5 linked regions of the Homo sapiens genome follow. The protein of the gene in region 4 purifies or fractionates together with the protein of the main gene of each other region. This does not show direct contact. Each region holds a gene or a part of one and is shown on either strand. Other genes may lie near its edges.

Region 1 (3,908 bases), on a different chromosome or scaffold from region 4:
CTGATTACTTCTTGAACCCCAAAAAGTGCTATTTAGAGGCAAGGGCCCATTTTGTGCCCATTAAAAGAAATATACAGGTGAATGTCTGTCTCATCCCTCTAATCATATGTAATAAAATTATATCGCTGTCAATAACAGCAAAGATAATGATATATTAATTTTAACAGCAGTTAGAACCAGAAGGAAAAGGCTGTTATACAGAAAAACATACAAATATGTAGGTAGAAGTGAAAAACTGAAGAATGTGGAGTGTTTACTGTCCCGTTACTCACACAGACGTGCTGGATTCAACACCCACGCTGAATCTCCATTTATTCCACGGAGGTGGAGTTCACCATGGTTCGACTGCCCACCAGATCCCCAAATGTCAAAGTGAAACAAAACTCAGTGAATTCTAGATGACTGTTTTACTTCCCCTAAAGAAGTTATCTGTAAATAAGAAAAATCAACTGATAGGGGGAAAAAAAAAAGATCTGTCATTTGTCAACAGATGGACGAAGACAAGCTATTGACTCAAAGAGAACCTGCCGCGAGTCTTAGTCTTTGGAAGGTCAGACAGCTGCAGTGTTCGGTCACATGGAGATGGTGTCTTCATGTCTCAGAGGCCGCATTCTGTAGGCCAGACGTGTGCTCACCAACCTATACAAGGGTCAGGGCAGTCCCGCAGGTAAGTTTCGAATTGACCTTTGGTAACATCTATCAAGGTTGTGTATACGGTCAGCTGAAAGAAAAGTTATTTTTACTTTAAGGACGTTTTCAATTCAGAGATGTTCTGATATATATTAGCATTTCTATACTTGTAGAATTTGCTTTAGAAGTTATTTAATATTAAATAATATAACTTAATATATGCAAAGCATGTTATATAATGTATATATTTATATTAATATAGTATAATCATATAAAATTAGCTAAAGTCTCACCAAATAACTAAAGCAAACAACTTCAACAGGATCACTGTTTCAGGTAATGAATATAAACAGGCTCAGGAAAGAATCTCCAGCTCCTTATAGGAGCTTATTCCTGACAGCACATTGCTCCACCCCCAATGCTTTAAGACTGCCTTAACCCTCCTTGACGCACAGCTGGCAGTCCTGGGAGACCTGCCGGTGTCCTATGGAGTAAAAACCGTGGAGCTTTGGCTATCCCTATCCTTAAAGCATTTCCAATACAGTGGGGGAAACTGCAGGCACCCAGATCACAAGGCACACACCCAAACACAAGTCACGAGATTGTGACTTGCTCAAAGATGGTATAGGCAAAACGCAAGTATGGCAGGGCCCGTGAACTGAAGGCAGGCTTCCTGTGAGAGCCAGGGTGACCTGGATGCTAAAGGCCGGAGGGATTTGTCCTGGCAGGGTAAAGGCGGCATGTTTACTTTAGGGAGAGCTGTGGAGAAGGACCAAGAAAAGAAGGAACAAATGGGAAAATTAGGGGGGCATATTCAGAACGTTCAGGGAATGATTGTTAGCGAGTGGTGGGATGATAGGAAACTTTTTGCATTTTTTTAAAACTACAGTGTAGGGAAAAGATAAACAGATGTAGTAAAGTTTAAGGGAAACCCGAACCCACCAAGACACAGAGCTCTGTCTGAAAATGGACTGCAGACTTTGTTTTGTTGACATTTAGGTGTTAGTTATATAGTGTGAGATTTTTAATAGATACCAATAAGAGTAAAATGCTAGCCTTAATTCAAATGCTATGTAAATAAAGCTATAAACAATATTCTGACCTATCAAGCCTCAGTGATCAATTTCTTTCTTGTATTCCAAAATACAGTTTTAGCCACACAAAAACATTTTTTAATAAAAAATCAGTCCTAAGCTGAACACACCTTTTGTGCTCAAACTGATCAAAGATAACAGAGAAAGATAAAACATAGGGCCAAATTCTTTCCCTAAAAGGCAAATATACATATAACATTTAAAATACCTTGTTGAGGACAGGTTTTGTTGACAGGACATCATACATGGTTTCAAATGAGATATTCTAAAACACAAGAAAATAGTTTTGTTCAGTAAGTTAAATACAGAAGCCAACAGCCTTATCTACACACATGGGCCACCAGAAACCAAGACATTCTTTAATCAACCTCCCCTCCATCCCCGCAGTGGAGTTTCTGTGGGAGTCACTGTTAGAAACACAGGTAACAGTTTTAATGGATTACTTTCCTCTCTCTCCTTCCCCTTTTTTAAATTCTTGCCTGTTTGTTATTCAACTTCAGAGTGGTATCCAGCATTAGAACCAGAAAAGGAAAGTACAGCACAATTTTGCTCTTTAAGTTAAGAAAACGAAACAAAAAAATCAGTGGAGAGTGGCTAGAGATACTATGAAAAATAGGACGTTTATAAATTACTTGAAGGCCAAAGAAAAATGCCAGAACCAAGGGAATCTTTAATGGCAACAGTTTCTTTCTATAGATGACCCTGCAAAGGTACCTCTTGGCTGGTGCGGTTCAGACACATCTTTGCAGGCGTTCTGCGATCATCAAGGAAGAAGGGATGTTTCCAACGGTCATAATTTGTTTGTACCACATACCATCTACCCTGCTTAGCATCGAGTCTAGATACAAAAGGAGAGATTCCCTCTTAGGCTACATGCCTTAAAACTCAAAGTATATCAGTGTATGCTTTTGTTTCTACTTCTTTTGCTTTAACAAACCTACTTACTCATATACATCCAATGATTCCTTTCTGTCTCGTGTAATCACACAACCTTCCCCAGACTGGTTGCCTCCCAGGATAAAGTAGGCTGGGGCCAATATCTTGGTCTTGGTCAATAAATTCTTGGCTTCTTCATAACTATATAGAAACATTTAAAAAGAAAAATGAAACTTTTTTTTAATTTTAGTAAATAACTTCATTTATTTTTAAATTTTACTTTAAGTTCTGGGACACATGTGCTGAACGTGCAGGTTTGTTACATAGGTACACACGTGCCATGGTGGTTTGCTGCACCCATCAACCCATCATCTAAGTTTCAAGCCCTACATGCATTAGGTATTTGTCCTAATGCTCTCCCTCCCCTTTCACCCCACCCCCTGACAGGCCCTGGTGCGTGATGTTCCCCTCCCTGTGTTCACGTGTTCTCTTTGTTCAGCTCTCACTTATGAGTGAGAACATGCAGTGTTCGGTTTTCTGTTCCTGTGTTAGTTTGCTGAGGATGATGGTGGGAAACATTTTTAGATGACTTAGAACGGAAATGTTTAGCTCTGTAGAAACTAAAGAAAAACAAGTATCTAAGGAATGTGTTATTTATTTATTTCTATTTTTAGAGATGGGCTCTCACTCTGTTGCCCAGGCTGGTCTCGAACTCCTTGGCACAAGCGATACTCTTGCCTTCGCCTCCCAAAGTACTGGGATTACAGGCATGAGCCACCATGGCCAGCCACAATGTGTTTTCTAAAAAAGGATGGTGAGCAATGCCTCTGGGAAAAGCAATCCCTGACCCTGTATGGTGAACACTGAGATGGGAAGCGGGAATCTTAGGAAGCCCCTCTAATCTGAAGGAGAAACAAAGTGGCCTCAAGAGATCATCTTCCACCCTTACTGTCCATGCCTTTCACTCAACAACAGAACAAAGGGAAATAATATTACAGTATGTAGGACTTAGAGAACAGAAAGTAAACCTTCTTGAAAATTAGGACTATTAAAAATTGAAGTGGGTTATCAAAGAACACTACTAACATTAAATCTTATTCCCTGGGAAGTATTAAAAATAGGATTGATGCCCATTTATTTGGACGCAGTGCTGGCTGAATGAAGGAAAGGCAGTTTTGCTATTGTAAGATTTCTATACCAAGGCAAGATATAACTTACAGGTTAATATGTAGTACATTTTGTATTTATTTATTTTGTTTTTTTAAGACAGAGTCTCACTCTATCACTCAGGGTGAAGTGCAGTGGACT
Region 2 (4,773 bases), on a different chromosome or scaffold from region 4:
GGTATAAAGTTATTCTCAAAATCTTCCTAGTTTTAATAAATAGATTATCTGTAGTTATACCCTTTTCATTTTTGATACTGGTTATTTGTACCAGTTTTCCTTTTCTTGTTAGAGGCCTTTGGGGCAGCCTGTGCCCTATAACTGATGAATGTGGGAATGTAAAGGCCCAGCCTTCATATTCTAACTTGGGACAGGTTAGGAGATAGGAAAGGTCATCCTATCTCAGAACTCGATGTAGGGTTGTATGAGGCATTTCATTGAGAATGCATCACAGTTCAATTTTTCTGCCTAATTTTGTTTCCTTCCTTTCCCTTGTACGGTTGTGGATCAAAAGCACTGCCTAATCTACTGTCTATTTAATTAGCCTTTTAAAATAACTGGTCAGGTGCAGGTAATCACAAGGGCTGGTTTTAATTCACCTTTATCCTGAGGAGTAAGCCCTTAAGTATCCTAGATCAATCCCAGGTATACCATTGAGGTCTGCGGGACATGATTTAAGTTTTTGTTTCTTTTTATGAGGTATTCTAGCTACTTGCAAGGATGGGGAAATGTAAAGGGCTAGTTCAAATAAATGGTGTATTAACATATTTACAGTATCTTCAAAATGATTATGAATTCTTAATTACTCTTCCTAGCTCCCCAAGGATGGATAACACTAACATATAGTCAGTGGGAAAGAAATCTCAGAAAATAACTGTTAGTTTGTCACTGTCATGGGAAATGGGAAGGAAGAAAAACAGCACTTATCAAGCATCTTCTGTGTACAAACTGCCATTTCAGACTCAGAGCAGTCCTTGAAGGTAGGTATCACTCATTACCTTTGTTTTACAGATGAAGAAACCAAAGTTCAAAGAAGTGACTGATTCAGAGTCATGAAATCGGGGAGCTGGGCCCTGAATCCAGACTGGTCTGACTTCAAAGCCTTGCTCTCTTTCCACTGCAATATTCAAAATCAAAACAAAGGTTTTTGTTAGTGATTCTCAATGTTGTGATACATTTTTTACCTGCTGTCCCTTAATAAATGATATTAAAGTTGCATTTGGAAATACAGAAGCAGTATTAATGTCACTGATTGTAGTTTTAATTGTCATTAACATTTTATTTGTCTTGTAAACTCTGATTCACATGAGTTTGAAGACTCAGGCTATATCAATAATGATCCCAATTATCTTTGAGAAAGTGTCACGTAGTGCCTGGGACAGTGCTGTGGGCTGATAACTAGTGAATTTAACTGAGTATTACAGTCAGGAGAATCCTATCTTGCCCGTGACCCACAGAGAGGCAGTGGGCAAGTCACCTTACCCTGGTCTCCCAGTCCAGATAAATGCTTTCATAAGCTCTAAGGTCTCTTCATGCTCTAAAATAATTATTTAAAAACTCACTGAAATACTTTGTTTCAATAAGGAATATTTATTAAGAAGACATGTTAACATGCTTAGATACAAAGTAAAAACACATGCCAATCTCAGTGAACTATAAAGAAAAAAATAAGAACAAAATTGTTTTCAGAGAAATTTTTGTGTTTTATAGGCATCACATGTCCATTTGCATACTAGAAAATTATTAGCATTGATAAACTTTTTTTTTTCAGTCTTAAAGTCTTTTTAAAGTAACTTTTTGGAAATGTGAAGTTCACAATACAAAATTTGCATTGAAGTCTGAATGTAAATTATAGACTTCTCCAAGTGTTTGAGAATAGAAATGTGATTGAAGATTTGCATTCCCAGATGCTGCCTACAGCAGTTTCCTTTCAAGAAATCAAATGTTCTTCATTATCACATGATAAGGATAAGTTTTTGGAGGAAAATTTTTAGGGCACATTAATTCTTGGAGAGTACTATAATTTTTAGTTAATATGAGCAAGTAAATCTTTATGTCAATCACCAAAAATTTAGCTTTTCCAAAGAATATTTCTTCATGCCTGAAAATAAAATTCTATCAAGTCTATGTATTTCTATAATTAGATGTATAAGTCTAATAAGATCATCTAAAATATTAATAATGACAACTACCACATATTGACCACTTACTCTGTGCTAGGCACCAAGCTAAGCACTTCACATACATCATCCCATTTAATGTTTACAGTAACTCAAGTATTAGCCCCACTGAATAAACAAGAAAACTGAGGTTTACAGAGGTTAAACAAGAGCCAAGTTCAAACAATGACTTTGTAAGTGGTTGAATTAGGAGTTTAAGGCAAGTCTGTCTTACTGTGCTACCAAGTCAGAGTACCCGATCACTATATTGTATGCCATCAGTGAGACCCCTGACCTGCTGTGATGAAGCTGAATGCCTAATGACTCCGTGATATATTCACAAAAGTATAATTTGCATCATTAGAATAAGAAGCAAGACCAAGTCAAGTGGACACAAAAATTCCTGCTCATTTAATTATTTTTATTTACACAACTTTTTCCATCATCATGATGCAAATAAGATTATAAATACACAAACACTGGAGTACATGCAACACATTCCACAAAGGAACAAAAATGTACAGCACTACAGAATAGAGAACCCAAATTTTTATATACAAAGTGCTTTAAAAAAAAAGACCTTGTGACATATTCAAACCATATTTATTTGAATACTTTCCAATAATTACCATGGGATACATCATTTATAAATAATATTTAATCTCCCCTATTTTTTCAAGCCAGAATTTGTGTTTCAACTAATCAAGTGAACAGCCATTCCATTATGTAATATTAAAGGCAAGTCACATAGCATCAAAATGAAACCGGTGGGCTTCTTGTCGTTTTTCTCTATCATCTGCTTTCTGAAAAAGAATTTTAGACTCGTTTATAAATGGTAGAAAGATGTTATGAAAAGACTCATTTCTGAAATACACAGTGATTCATTTTTAAAAGTCTCCAGCAATTAGCAGATAATAGATATGATTTCCTAATTCAACAGTCCTAGTATTTTTGTAGTTTATAGTAGCTATTTTATAATTAATGATCTAATTGATTAAAAAACAATAAATACTTGAATACTTAAGGCACATTAAATACTTAGGGTCCTTAAATACTTAGCTTCTTATCATTTATTATCTACTTGAAAATAGGAATAAGTATTAGATTCTATAAGGATGAATCAATGATTGCATTTTTCTGTCATTTTTAACAATGATGTTAATAAACAAATCTAATGGCTGGGTGTGGTGGTGGCTCATGCCTGTAATCCCAGCATTTTGGGAGGCCAAGGAGGGCAGATAACTTGAGGTGAGGAATTCGAGACCAGCCTGGCCAACATGGTGAAACCCCGTCTCTACCAAAAAAATACAAAAATTAGCTGAGTGTGGTGGTGGGCACCTGTAATCACAGCTTCTTGGGAGGCTAAGGCAGGAGAATCGCTTGAACCCAGGAGCGGAAGTTGCGGTGAGTCAAGATTGCACCACTGCACTCCAGCCTGGGTGACAGAGTACTAATGTACTAATTATTTTTTCATTAACTTGTCAATTTAGCAGATATTCATTGGCCCTTTGCTTCTAATACTCCCAATACCAATACTGTGTTTGCTATTTTAATATTAAAAAAACCTCCGTTTTGTATCTTGTTCTCCAAAAAGACAAATGCAAAACATATTGTATAACTGTAGTTCAAGATAAAAAGTGAAAAATGTTACCAAGTCTAAGAGACTACTTCTAGATCCGGGTGAGGAAAGGGAAAGCTTTGAAAAGACAGGGAAAGCATTTGAAAGTATGGAAATGGGGAGAGTGGTATTCACTCCAAGCTGGGGTTACAACATGATCAATCATGAGAAGGCTGGAAGGAGCACGGATATGTGAAAGCAACTGGTAAAAAATACGACTGTGGAGTCACATGGAAGTCATATGCAGGCCAGGCCAAGGATTTTATACATAAAAGGCAATGGATATTCACTAGAGCTTTTTCAGCAGGGGAGTGACATGATGAAGGCTAAACAGAATGAATCACTGGCAGCAGTGTGCTAAATGGAATGGAAAGGGGAGAGAATGGAAAGGGGAGAGAACGGAAAGAAAGAGACCAAGTAGGATGTAAGAAGGGGCAGTGCAGTAGGAATGTAGAAGTGGAGTCAGCTGTAGAACTTCTTACAGAGGCAGAGTCCATAGGCAAGTGATGAAATCTTGTAGGTTAAGTAAGAGAGATGAAGCTTTAGAATGCTGGTTTTGAGGTGCTGTAAGTCATCTAGGTTGAGCTATCATGGTGACAGTTGGAAATGGGGAAGGACCTTTAGAGATGAGAGCTGGGGATATCTGAAGCCATGATTTTAGATGAAATTGGCAGGGAAAGTGTTGAAAGAAGAGGGCCAGGGGCAGACACTGGGGAAAGCCTGCATTGAGAAAATGGTAGAAGGAGCCAGCCTGCTTAAGTAAAAAAGTGGTTAAAGAGGTTCTACCTCTTTGAGATACCACAGTGCCACAGGAGATACAGTATATATATAGTCAAATATATACTTGTACTTAAAACTTTCATTTTTGGCCACTGCATAATTATTGTTATAAGCACGCAATGTTTATGCTGTAATCAGATCTACTGAGGAATTAATGAAATTCATTTCCTTTGCTTCACAGGTCAAGAACTGTGGAATCTTTCAGATGATATTCTGATACTTCTGGACCAAGTATGTATGGTTGTCCTTGATCTTACTCTTAAGTTGCAATCTTAAGGTTAATTGAATATGTAACTTCATGTTACTGTTTTTGATATGTAAAGGAGTGATTTTTTAAAAGTGACAAGCCTATGAGCATTTATAGAACAACTAATATGTTCTTTTTCATATGTTAAA
Region 3 (5,100 bases), on a different chromosome or scaffold from region 4:
AGCTTGACACTTTTCCTGCAAAATACCTTTTGTTGGTTTTGTTTTTCATCTATATATCTTATACCTTTACCTAAAAAGCAAGACTGTCCAGGTTTCTGCCACTGAAACTCATTGCCTCTTCAATCATTTCAGCTCTGGAAAGGAAGAGAAATGGAAGTGAGAAAGTTGAGCATTTCCTGGCAGTTCTTGATAGTTCTGGTTCTGATCCTGCAAATTCTGTCTGCGTTGGATTTTGACCCATACAGAGTCCTAGGGGTCAGCCGAACAGCCAGTCAGGCTGATATTAAAAAGGCTTATAAGAAGCTCGCCCGGGAATGGTAGGTGAAACAAAGAAATAGAGGTTTAACATAAGCTAAACAGTCTTAGCAGGGATGAAGTCTAAATTATGACTAGCTTTTATTTGTCTCTGTTTCTATGTTCAATATATATATCTGTCTAAAATATTTTACGCAGGAGAGCTAATGTTCATGTTCTATAATTGTTAGCGATAAGATCCAAAGCCTATGTTTACTCTGAAACTCCCTTTTAGGAATACTTTGGCTTAAAGAATTGCCTTAGATACTGTTAGCATATTTAATGTTAAAGTAACAAGTTTTAATTTTAAAAAAATGTATATATAGTCAATAATGGATATGCTACCCTTCCCATGATACATTATTCATAAAGTAACTTTATGAGTGTAATTGCTAAACAGGAACACTATACAACCCTATTCTCTAAATTATTAATTTCTACACTTTGAAAAAAAGTTAAGAGTAATAGCCTTTTGCCTCCAAAAAAAAAAATTCAGAAACCAAGGATAGTTGTCTCTTGATATCCATGAGGTCTTGGTTCCAGGATCCCCAGAAATACCAAAGTCATTGGATGCTCAAGTCCCTATATAAAATAGCATAGTATTTGCATATAATCTATGCACGTCCTCTCATATACTTTAAATCATCTCTAGCTTACTTATAATACCTAATACAATGTAACTGCTGTGCAAATGGTTGTTATACTGTTATTGTTTAAGGAATAATGACAAGAAAAAAGTCTGTACATGTTCAGTACAATGCAATTTTTTAAAAATATTTTTGAATATTTCAAAATAGAAAATATTATATTTTGGTTGGTGGAATCCATGGATGTGAAACCAACAGATATAGAGGGCTGACTATATATTACTCAAAAAAAAAAATTGGCCTGGCATGGTGGCTCATGTTTGTAATCCCAGCACTTTGGGAGGCTGAGGTGGGAGGATCGTTTGAGCCCAGGAGTTTGAGACCAGCCTGGGCAACATAGTGACACCTCATCACTATGGAAAAAAAAAAAAAGCCCAGAAGTTTGAGGCTGAAGTGAGCTATAATCACACCACTGCACTCCAGCCTGGGCAACAGAGTGAGACCCGTCTCAAAAAAAAAAACTTACAGAAAATTGTAATTTTGCCTGTAGTTATCAGGATAGCAATTAGCAGGGTAGCAATAAATCTAAAACTTTGGACAAATATCATCAGTTTCTTCCACCAATGCCTTGGCCATGCCAAAGAAGCAGAAGTGTTGGATTATATAGATGGAGGGGGAGCAGCAGAAGGAGGAAAGGACAGAGGTGACTCCAAGCTGGCTGTACCAACCATGAGGAATGGAAGAAAGTTTGGGACAGGTACCATCACTGAGCACCTACTACATGCTAATCTCCTGGTTCTATACTTTTTATCTCATTTAAACCTTATAATGAGCCTATGAAGGAGGATATCAGTATCTCTTTTTTTTTTGAGACGGAGTCTCGCTCTGTCACGCAGGCTGGAATGCAGTGGCACAATCTTGGCTCACTGTAACCTCCGCTTCCTGGGTTCAAGGGATTCTCCTGACTCAGCCTCCCAAGTAGCTGGGACTACAGGCGTGCACCACCACACCCAGCTAATTGTTGTATTTCTAGTAGAGACGGGGTTTTGCCATATTGGCCAGGCTGGTCTCAGACTCCTGACCTCAAGTGATCCGTCCACCTCGGCCTCCCAAAGTGCTGGGATTACAGACGTGAGCTACCATGCTCGGCCAGTGTCTCTGTTTTATAGATGAGAAGATGGAGGCTTAGAGTTGGTAAATCTGTGGTACCTCTGGGTTCCGTAGTTTGACCCTCTGCATCAGTAGTCCATTGCTTTATTGTTTTTTAATCATTTACACATCTAGGCATGAGTAAGGGTGAGTGGGCTAATGGTTGGCTGGGGAGGAGCTGAATGCGAGTAGGAAGTTATCCAGAAGCAAAACTGCCACATTGAGGTGATGCATGGTACAGACTGCATGCGTGACTGCGCCTGACACTGTTCTGCTTCAGTGAACAGGTATATTTTAGCATTAAACTGGTTGAAATAAAGGTAAAGATCATTGAAAATATATTTTTAAAATAAATGTTTTAGACCATATTCCATGAGAAATCCAGAATTGGATGCCAAAGAAGCAATCTCTAATTATACATGACCTCCTTCCAGGGACTCTTTATACCAAGGTTATGTTCTACATCATTTCAGACTCTTGCCTCTTTATGTTTAAAGCAGGATATATAAATCTGCAGCAAATTCATAAGGTAACAACATTCTTTTGGACAAGGCATAGCCTTTGACAATATTTTAAGAACACAAGTGACAGCTTGAGTATGTGGGACCTATTAAAATGTATAGCTTTGACTTTTCTGTCTTCCAGAGCTGAAAAGGGTGTTATGATATTAATTAAATGAGTCATATTCTTCTCTTTTTTAATTAGATTCTCTCTAGGAATAATTCATCACCATAGAAGTGTATTGAGTGTGTCATCCAGTAAAAGTCTAAAATTTTACTTTACGTTTTTAATTTTGCTCTACTATTATTTTCTGCGGTTTTGGCTATGACAATGCTTTGTCACTTGGAATAGTTTAAGTTTTGCTTACTAATGGCTTGATATACACTGAAAATAGCAGTGTTTCCCAGTTTGACTTTTCAGAATGAGCTATAGCAGGGGGAAGTGGTTACTTGTTGAGTTGGATCTGGAGCCTTCCTCTGATACATTTTACTAAGTGTTTCTTAGACTGCTTAAGAATTTTACTTTGCTTGGTGAAACCATTTGACTTTACTTTTTCCCTTAGGAAAACTATGTTTTTCTCCCAATAATTAAGTTTTATCGTAGGTACTTTTTGTTTGTTATCCACATTAGCAAAAGAAATAACTCCTCCCACCCAAAGAATGGCAGATTGGTGTGACGTGGTTATGCAATAAACTAACAGTAAATTATTTTGTGTAATTCTTTGCTGTATTACCTTCTCTATCTTTGTTTTTATTCCTTTAAGAGGTAACTAGAGAGCCAGTAGATACTACACGCAATATTTCCTCTACTTTGAATTTTAAAGATTGTGTATTATATTGCAGTTCCTGAAATAATTTCATATTAACTGAAAATAGCATTGGACAATACTTTCCTATGGCTGAATTTTTTTTTTTATGTTTTCAACCTTGTGGTGTCTTCCCACAATTAGGAAAGTATTCCGTATGAATACAGCTGAAAGTGCTGTGGTTTCCTCCCTGTTCTTCAGCCTTGCCCTCCTCTGTTTCAGGATCTGTGTTTTCTAACCTAGCTGCCCTCAAGACTCTCTCTTTGGTTCATTCTCCTAAAAAGCCCCTTCCTACCCTTCTTCTACAGAGTTCTATATGTTAAATCTTCATTTGTATGATTGCATAATTTTTGATCCACTCAGTCGTCAGCCTGATGGTTTGGTTGATGGGTTGGTTTTGTTGGTATTTTTGTGTTTTTTTTTGTCATCCAGAAATGCTTTGGAGTCTCCATCTCGTTTCCTTAAGTCATGCTGTTTTCATTATGACTAGCTGAGATTTTTTTCCCCCACTAATACTCATAGCAAGGATTAAATGGTTAAGGAAGGAATGATTTTTAAACTCAGCAGTCAACAATTTGGAGTTTCCTTATTTGTAGAGAAATCAGAATATGTGGTATAATTCATTCAAACACATTCCTGCTAGAATAAATCCATTAAGTTGTAGATTTTTTTTTATTCCAATGTGCTTGGTGTATCGTTAATAGTCATTTGCTTCCCAGTGAATTGTTTTTCTTTCCAGAACCTATGTCAGAGGAAATTTACTAGAAGTTACCAAAAGTGATTATGTAAAGAATACTGTCATACAAAGTCTCTTAAAGTGAACATTGAAAAATCAGTCCATATAAAACACTGATTTAGGTCTTAGGGGCTTTCAAGGAATTAAACCTAGCCCTTACTATCGAGAACTTTAAAATCTCCAAAGCTGGCCGGGTGTGGTAGCTCACACCTGTAATCCCAGCACTTTGGGAGGCCAAGGCAGGAGGATGGCATGAGTCCAGGAATTTGAGACCAGCCTGGACAACATGGCAAAAAATGTTAAACATGTGGCATTGAGGCCGGGCGTGGTGGCTCACGCCTGTATTCCCAACACTTTTGGAGGCCGAGACAGGTGGATCATTTGAGGTCAGGAGTTTGAGACCAGCCCAGCCAACATGGTGAAACCCCATCTCTACTAAAAATACAAAAATTAGCCGGGTGATAGTGGCGCAGGCCTGTAATCCCAGCTACTCGGGAGGCTGAGGCAAGAGAATCGCTTGAGCCTGGGAGGCAGAGGTTGCAGTGCGCCAAGATTGTACCACTGCATTCCAGTCTGGGCAACAGAGTGAGACCCTGTCTCAAAAAAAACAAAAAAACAAAAAAAACAGTGGCCTTGAAATCTTTATCCAGGTAAAAAGCAATCGTAATAATAACGAAAAATGTTCTAATTTGAAAGTCAGGCACAAGTGCAGTTTGAAACCTGATTGTTACTAAATGAATTTAGTCTATCCTAAAAGCTATTTCTCATGTCTACCTGTGTTATCAGAAGAAACAACAGCATTCTAGCATCCTGATATCATTCTAGCATTGGGATGAAACGTTGCCATCCTAGGAGAAGACATGGGTTCTTATGGATAAACGACTTAGCCTTCAGCCAGCTTTAGCAGTGTTTGGGAGCAGTGTACAGACATGCACCATTTCCCACCTTCCTCTGTGAAATGCTGCAGTATTATATGGTGCTTTGAAAACATGCCCTGCTGGAGTGCTTTGGGAAAAAATAGCCTGTTT
Region 4 (3,500 bases):
ACCCTTTCTGTTAAAGGGATATTAAAATCCTGCTGGCATCCCCTCCCCTCAAAGAGAACACACCTGGGCCCAGCCAAGAGAGTTGCCTATAGTCGCAGGCTCATCCACAGACTACAGTGCAGCTGTCGAGCTCGTGCATGCTCAGGAGGGAGTTCAGAGCCTCAGCCCCAGCCTGCCATTGCCTCCAGCCTGATGCAGGGTCTGAGGGAGCTGCTGGAAAGCTTCCCATCCCAATGACCATGTGCAACCCCAAACCTTGCCTAGGCAGAGTCCCAGGCCTCTTGAGAGACTCAGGAGCTGGGCAAGACCTCCCAACATGGGTATGGACGTGCCCAGACAGGGCTGGATAAGGCCCCTGGCCAACAGCAGGTTAGTAAAGGGGCACTAGGAGCTGGTGCAGGACCCAGCAAGCCTGCCTGTGGGACAGGTTCCCTTTACAGGGTGAGCTCTTCCACTGCTAACGTCCCCTGAGTTAAGAAATCCCAAATAGGAACTGCAGGGGCTGATTCACCAAAGCACCACCAGGGCTAGAGAGCACGAGCACAGAGCAGGCCTCCAGCAAATGCTTCTGGAAAAAGAAAAGGGAGGGAGGGAGGTACGTTGGAGGTAGTGGTTTCAAACCCTGCTTCACATTAGAAGCAGCTGAGGAGCTCGGAAATGCTGATGCCTAGGTTGTCACCACCCCCATGGATTCTAATTCCATGGGTCCAGGACAAGGCTGTCCAGGTAATTACCGTGTGTAACCAGGAAGAGAAGCGCTGCTCTAGTAGGACTAGCTGTGAGTGGTTCTCAAGCAGCTGCACATGTTAGAATCCCCTGGGATTCAAACGTTTCAAATGATCCTGGAGCTCTAGCCCTATCTCAAACCAACTACACCAGAATCTCTGGGGGTGCAGTCCAGGCCTCAGCATGTTTCGAAGCCCCCACGTGGTTCCCCACATGCAAGCAGTCCTGTGTGCTGACACTTGCTGGGGTGTCCTCCGTGACTGTCAGAGTCAAGGGTCTAATGCTGACTGGTTGCTACGGGTGCAGCCCAGCCCATGGGATTCTGCCCAAGCAGGGCTAACTTCTGCCAGGCCACCCCACATGCTCCATGACCCCAGAATTAGGCTCAATGGAGGCTGTCTTAGCTGAAGGAGAGTTTGCCTCCCTGTCCTGAATTTTGGTAACTTCTGCAACTGAAGGCCAATCATTCCCTAAGAGTCTGGGGAGGTCAGAGAGTACGTTGTGGTGAATCAGGCACAGGCTCTTTCTTGAGACCTCACAGTCTACAGGGGGAGGAAGAGATGGACTGATGGGTGTAGACACTTGCAACGCAGAGGTGACACCATGACTGAGGCCATCAGCACAGGGGGCTGCTGGACCTAATCAACCTGGGGGCGGGGGCATCAGGGACGTCCTCCTGGGGGATGTGACATCATAAGTGACTTCATGGAAGAACATTAGGATGAGGGGAAGAAGGCTCTGAGCAGAGGAAATGGCATCAGCCCTGGAAAGAACGTGGAGAGCACACAGGCTGTTCTAGAGGCATCACAGGCCTTGGCATGGCTGGCCCAAGGGGTGTGAGTGATGGGGAAGCCTGGGGGCCTGGGCAGGGGGCAAAGAACAGATTACACTTGGACTTGATCTCAAGGACAACAGGGAGCCAGTGACAGTTCTAAGCAGGGAAGCGACAAGGTGAGAATTATGTTTTGGAGTGATGTCTCTGGGGGCAACAGGAGGCATGTTTGCAGGGGGATGGCTGAAGGCAAGGGGGCCAGTGGGAAGGCTGATGTAGTAGGGCGTGTCCCAGGTGCTGAGGCCAGACGGGGCAGTGGGGTGGAGTCAATGGCCTAAGATGGCATAAGAGGTGAGCACAGCACTGCGAGACAAGAGGAGGAAGGGCCGGCTCAGGCCGGCGAGTTCCACTGGTGAGCTTTCTGGATTCTGGATGATGCAGTTGTCAATGGTTGCTGGGGTGGGGCGGGAGCTGGAGAGTCCTGGTTTGGTTCCAGGGCGAGATTTCCTACAGGCAGGTTTCAGTTCTGCGAGGCATCCTGCTGGACCCAGCCTCCCCGGCCTCCCTTTCTGGTGGATTTGTGAAATTCAGGGGCCTACGTGCCTGATCCCTGCAACAAAGCTCCCGCCATGCCGGGTGAGCCTAAGAGGGTCGGGGAGAGAAACTCCCACCTCCCCACAAAGCACCTCTGAACATGAAAGCCGGACTCCACATCAATATTTATTGACTCGGTTTATATAACCTCCATCCTCAGAGACGTTCTAAAGCCCTTGGTTTCACTTCTTGAATTTAACAACCTGAGCCTCGCGATAAACAGCTCGCTAGTTCTCCAGCGCTACATTGGAGGGTTTCATTACAGGCACAGTCCTCACCACGGAATCACCCTCTCTGCACCCGTCTCCCCTCATCCACTCACTCAGCCACTCATCGTCCGCTCACTGAGAGTCTACTAAAGGGCCTACTGTGAGCCGGATGCTGTGCACAGCCATTGCCTCAAGGAGTTCACAGGAGGGAGAGAGTGAGACATTCAATGAGCAATTCACCAAAGAAATAACCACAAACCAAGCACTGAATGTGGTCTGAACAGAGCACACGAGGGGGGCCCTTTGACGGGGTGGTCCTGGAAGCGAGAGGGGACTGGGCTCCAGGCAACCCCGGGCCAGAGCATTGCAGCATTCTAGGACGCCCAGAGATCCTACAAGGAAGAGGAGCTCGAGGTTCCAGAGGGCCTGGAAGAAGCAGTCTGGCTGTGACGAAGGGGACAAGGAGAGAACGCTGAGGTGAGGCTGGAAGGAAAGCAGGGTCCAGCCCCCTAGGGCTTTGGAGGCCAATATCACCCTTGTCCTGCCCAAGACAGTAGCTCCCCACAGAGGCAGCCCTGGTGCTGTCGGGGTAACATCTTTGCTCAGCCTGCACCCCCTCAACCACCCTCCAGTCTCATGTACCTCTCCCCACTGGTTCACACTGTCCCCTCCAGCCCCAGCACCCTGACAGCTCCTGCAGTTGCTTCTCTGGGCCTTGGGCCAGGCCTGGAGCCCCTGTGTGCCTTTCCTCAGCAAGGAGAACATCTCCTCAGCATTCAGCTCCAGCCCTGAACCCCTAATCCATCCCTGCTGTGTAGCTGGGGCCTGCTCCAGTTCCTCCTCCATAGGAGCACACTGCATCCCCATCACCCCTCTCGCCTACCAGCCACCTTCTGCTGGGAAGGCCTCGGGCAGCAAGCGAGTCGCACCCTTTTCTCTGTGCCCAGTAGTGACTCATACAAAGTGGGGATCAGAAACATTTCCTGACCTGCAGTGTTGAGTTGAATTAAGACCAGAGAGACAGACACACAGACACTCATACACACACACACACACACACAGACACACACAAAGAGACACACTCACACACACAGTTACACACACACACAGAGACACACACACTGAGAGAAAGGTACACACACAGAGACACAGACACACACACAGACACAGAGACACACACAGAGACAAACACACACAAA
Region 5 (3,500 bases), on a different chromosome or scaffold from region 4:
TAGGAAGCAGAGGTTGCAGTGAGCCAAGATCCTGGCCACTGCACTCTAGCCTGGGTGACAGATGAGACTCTGCCTCAAAAAAAAAAAAAGTCTTCTTTCCCATATATCCCCTAGAAACTGATGTCAACAGGTCTTTTCAGTCTTAGAGAGTCAGAAAGAGACACCGTTCTCAAGCCAGTCAACATATATGTCACCACGGTAGTTAGCATCACAGAAAGCTGAGAACAACAATTCTTGTGCTGCAAACCTGTAATTTTTATGTGTGCCAACCTCTACCACATTAAAACCACCACATCTTCTCTCTTTCTATTAGTAGAAAGGCCTTGTTTTTCCAGCTAAACAAATAAGGTGTTTAAAATGATATATCACAGGGCTCAGTCTTCAAATGGTAAGAATTAAATTTACCTCAGAGGGAACATACTGCTCCACAGCTGTAGCAACAGTTGCACAACAAATCCAAAGCAATACCATCACCGAGAGGACAAGAGTTGTAGTTAAAATCCACCCAGAGTTACTGGAAAAAAAAAATCAACAATTAGTTATATTAAAATTTTATAAGAAACAGGAAATTCTTAATTAGTCAACCTTATGTACTTAGCTCAACAGTACAATTAAAACTTTGTTGGTTATCTTTGAAACTATTAAAAAACATACTTACAGAAGGAAATATTATACTAATAGCTATTACATTAGGTTGGCATAAAGTCTTTTTCCTCCACTTCTAATGTTTCTGTAACATGGCTATATCACTTTTGTAATAATAATAAAATCAGATATACTTGACTTTCTGCTAAATATATAAGGCAAGTGAAAGTGTCCTGTAAATTGTACACTGTTGTACAAATGTCATATATTATTTTGCAAGTTATTACGATACTTGCTTTAAGAAAACCAATATACCAAAAAGTTAAGGTATAGAATAGGTAAATTTAAAATGATCATTTGTTTTATAAAAGAATTCACACCAGGCTTCCAGAAGTCAGTTTCCCTAGAATACTTTACATATTCAATTTGCCATAATTTACTTATACTTCAATTTAAAAAAGCACAGCTATTATAAGGCATTCTGTAACCATTACAGCATATCTCAGTAAAGAGATAGTTATATTTTCCTTATAATTAAAATATCTTAAGACAGAAGGCCAGTTATGAGAATCAGCAATTAGAGATTTTTTATTTATTTTTATTTATTTTGAATTTTTATAGAGACAAGCTCTCACTATATTGCCCAGGCTGGCCTTGAACTCATGGGCGCAAGCCATTCTCCCACCTGGAGTTTTTTTCATAATTGACCTATTAAGATTCAAAGAATAGGAAAAAGTCAAGCCATTTTTAAATAATTAAAAGTCTAACTCTGACAAACTGTGTAATACAGATACTCCCTAATTTTCACATCTCTGCTCATCCAACACTGCCTAGTAAGAGATCTATACTTACCACCCTAATCACTCACTTGATAGTTTGCCAAGACTTGAACATGCAGTAAGCACAGTCATTGTTTGTCTGCCAGCAAAAGAGGTGGACTTTGGAGAATGTATTGTATCTAAAAGCAGGGAACTCCCATATGATTCTTTAAGTATCCAATTTAGAAAGATAATAGAGTAAAATATGTTTTTAATGAACAAATACCCACTTTCCTCTCCATGTTCCAGCCCTAAGTAACCTGAGTACTAAGGAATTTACCACAAAATGAGGATATATTTGATATCTAGATTCCAGTAGCAACTACCTAAGCCAGAAAACTGGGGCTCATCCCTTCAATCTCCACAACAAAACAATGACTAGATCCTACAGATTTTCAACTATCTCCATTATCTCCTGTTCTTATCTACTGCCCTAATCCAGACCTCATAATTTCTTCCCTGATTTACCAAAGTTCTCCAACCTGGTCCTCTAATCTATCCTTCACATAGAAGCCTCTTCTTGACACTTATGTTCCTGATTCTCTCTATTCCTGTTTTCCCAGTTCAGTCAAATTTCTGACTCTCCTTATCCTCCATATATAGTAATGTACCCTATACACATTGAGCAGGAGGCCAGTATATCTGAAAAAAAAATTTTAAGTAAATCTTCTGCTATAACTAGCAAAAATTTCTACTCATCACTTGAGATATTTCTATCTCACCTGTCAATCCTCCCCTTGAAACCTCCAGTAGACTTAAATACAGTCCTTATATGCTGTGTATGAGACATGTGTAGGACTGTGTGTGTGTATAGCAATCATTATTGTCCATGTCTGTTTAGATCTGAGAACTCCTGACATCTTTACTAGGTCTCAACTCCCTAGCACAGTGCCTGGCTCCTCAAAAAGAAATGCAAGTGAAGAAAGAGTGACCTCAATTTCCATTCTGGAGACAAGGGTGTCTCTTTAACAGCTACGACCAGATTCCAATAACTGGCTGAGTGATTCTGTATGTAATCATGGAAAAATCATGACACTTTAGGAAGTAAATAGTTACAGCAGAATAGGATGAGCAGAAGATGTACAGTTAGAAAAATTAGGTTTGAATGCTAACATAGTGACTGTATAACCTTGCGAGTAGTCAATTCACCTCTCTAAATCACCACCTACTTATCACAGGGTATTGTTCTAAAAGTCAAATGGGATCACTGAAGGGGAAAAAGCATTTAAAAAAAGAACACTTAAAAAAATAATAAAATTTGAGACAGTCTCGCTTTGTCACTCAGGCAGTGCAATGGCACGATCACAGCTCACTGCAGTCTCAACCTCCTGGGTTCAAGTGATTCTCCCACCTCAGCCTCTTGACAACTGGGACTACAGGTGTGTGCCACCATGTCCAGCTAATTTTTTTATTTTTTGTAGAGATGGATGGGGTCTCACTATGTTACCCAAGCTGATCTTGAACTTCTGGGCTCAAGTGATCCTCCCACCTTGGCCTTCCAAAGTGCTGGGATTACATGCATGAGCCACCGCACTCGGCCAAAAGAATAATTTTTATTCAAATGTAGGATCCTATTATAATTTATGTTTGGGCACAGAAACTTCTAAGAAATACATTTCTATAAATACATTATAAAGTTAGTTGCTTCACAAAATTACTTTTAAAGTGTTAGATGTAAAAAAACAACATAACATATAATGACAAAATGTTAAAGGTCAATAAATCACCAATAATATGCCAGGTAGTACAGTACTGAGAACTGTAACTTAAGATTAAATAATTATTTAGGTTTCACAGAACTATCAAACTGCAACATACATCCTAAATACTGGAAAGAAAAACTGCCCTTTTTTGGACAAGCTCAAAACCAGGTTTAGAAATGAACGAAGGATAAAATTTAAAGTTTAATCCTTGTTTTCTCACATAGTCTTTAAACATTTTGCTTAGTAAAAAGTATTAATTTGTAAGGTCCACATAATTGTAATGATATATGATAAAACCTCTCAAGAAACTGTTTCTATAAGAAATTACAGGGAGCATGTGATTTGGACTACTGCAGTTTTATACTTGAGATAGAACAGTCCACTAGAATGAACA

Evidence for each region.
Region 1: the proteins of NSG2 (region 4) and ASAH1 purify together in Homo sapiens (affinity purification with mass spectrometry; one large-scale study listed by BioGRID and IntAct). This does not show direct contact.
Region 2: the proteins of NSG2 (region 4) and ITFG1 purify together in Homo sapiens (affinity purification with mass spectrometry; one large-scale study listed by BioGRID and IntAct). This does not show direct contact.
Region 3: the proteins of NSG2 (region 4) and DNAJC16 purify together in Homo sapiens (affinity purification with mass spectrometry; one large-scale study listed by BioGRID and IntAct). This does not show direct contact.
Region 5: the proteins of NSG2 (region 4) and TMEM59 purify together in Homo sapiens (affinity purification with mass spectrometry; one large-scale study listed by BioGRID and IntAct). This does not show direct contact.

The regions. Positions count from the first base shown.
Region 1 is NC_000008.11:18,056,903-18,060,810, forward strand, and holds part of ASAH1 (acid ceramidase isoform a preproprotein), read right to left. Parts: intron 2,802-3,908; coding exon 2,670-2,801; intron 2,563-2,669; coding exon 2,439-2,562; intron 1,990-2,438; coding exon 1,933-1,989; intron 722-1,932; coding exon 632-721; 3' UTR 1-631. UniProt on the Homo sapiens protein: Lysosomal ceramidase that hydrolyzes sphingolipid ceramides into sphingosine and free fatty acids at acidic pH.
Region 2 is NC_000016.10:47,152,997-47,157,769, forward strand, and holds the end of ITFG1 (T-cell immunomodulatory protein isoform 1 precursor), read right to left. Parts: intron 4,609-4,773; exon of another isoform or gene 4,559-4,608; intron 2,783-4,558; coding exon 2,723-2,782; 3' UTR 1,395-2,722; downstream 1-1,394. UniProt on the Homo sapiens protein: Modulator of T-cell function. Has a protective effect in graft versus host disease model.
Region 3 is NC_000001.11:15,528,956-15,534,055, forward strand, and holds part of DNAJC16 (dnaJ homolog subfamily C member 16 isoform 1 precursor), read left to right. Parts: intron 1-132; 5' UTR 133-150; coding exon 151-317; intron 318-5,100. UniProt on the Homo sapiens protein: Plays an important role in regulating the size of autophagosomes during the formation process.
Region 4 is NC_000005.10:174,097,706-174,101,205, reverse strand, and holds part of NSG2 (neuronal vesicle trafficking-associated protein 2), read right to left. Parts: intron 1-3,500.
Region 5 is NC_000001.11:54,036,205-54,039,704, forward strand, and holds part of TMEM59 (transmembrane protein 59 isoform 2 precursor), read right to left. Parts: intron 515-3,500; coding exon 406-514; intron 1-405.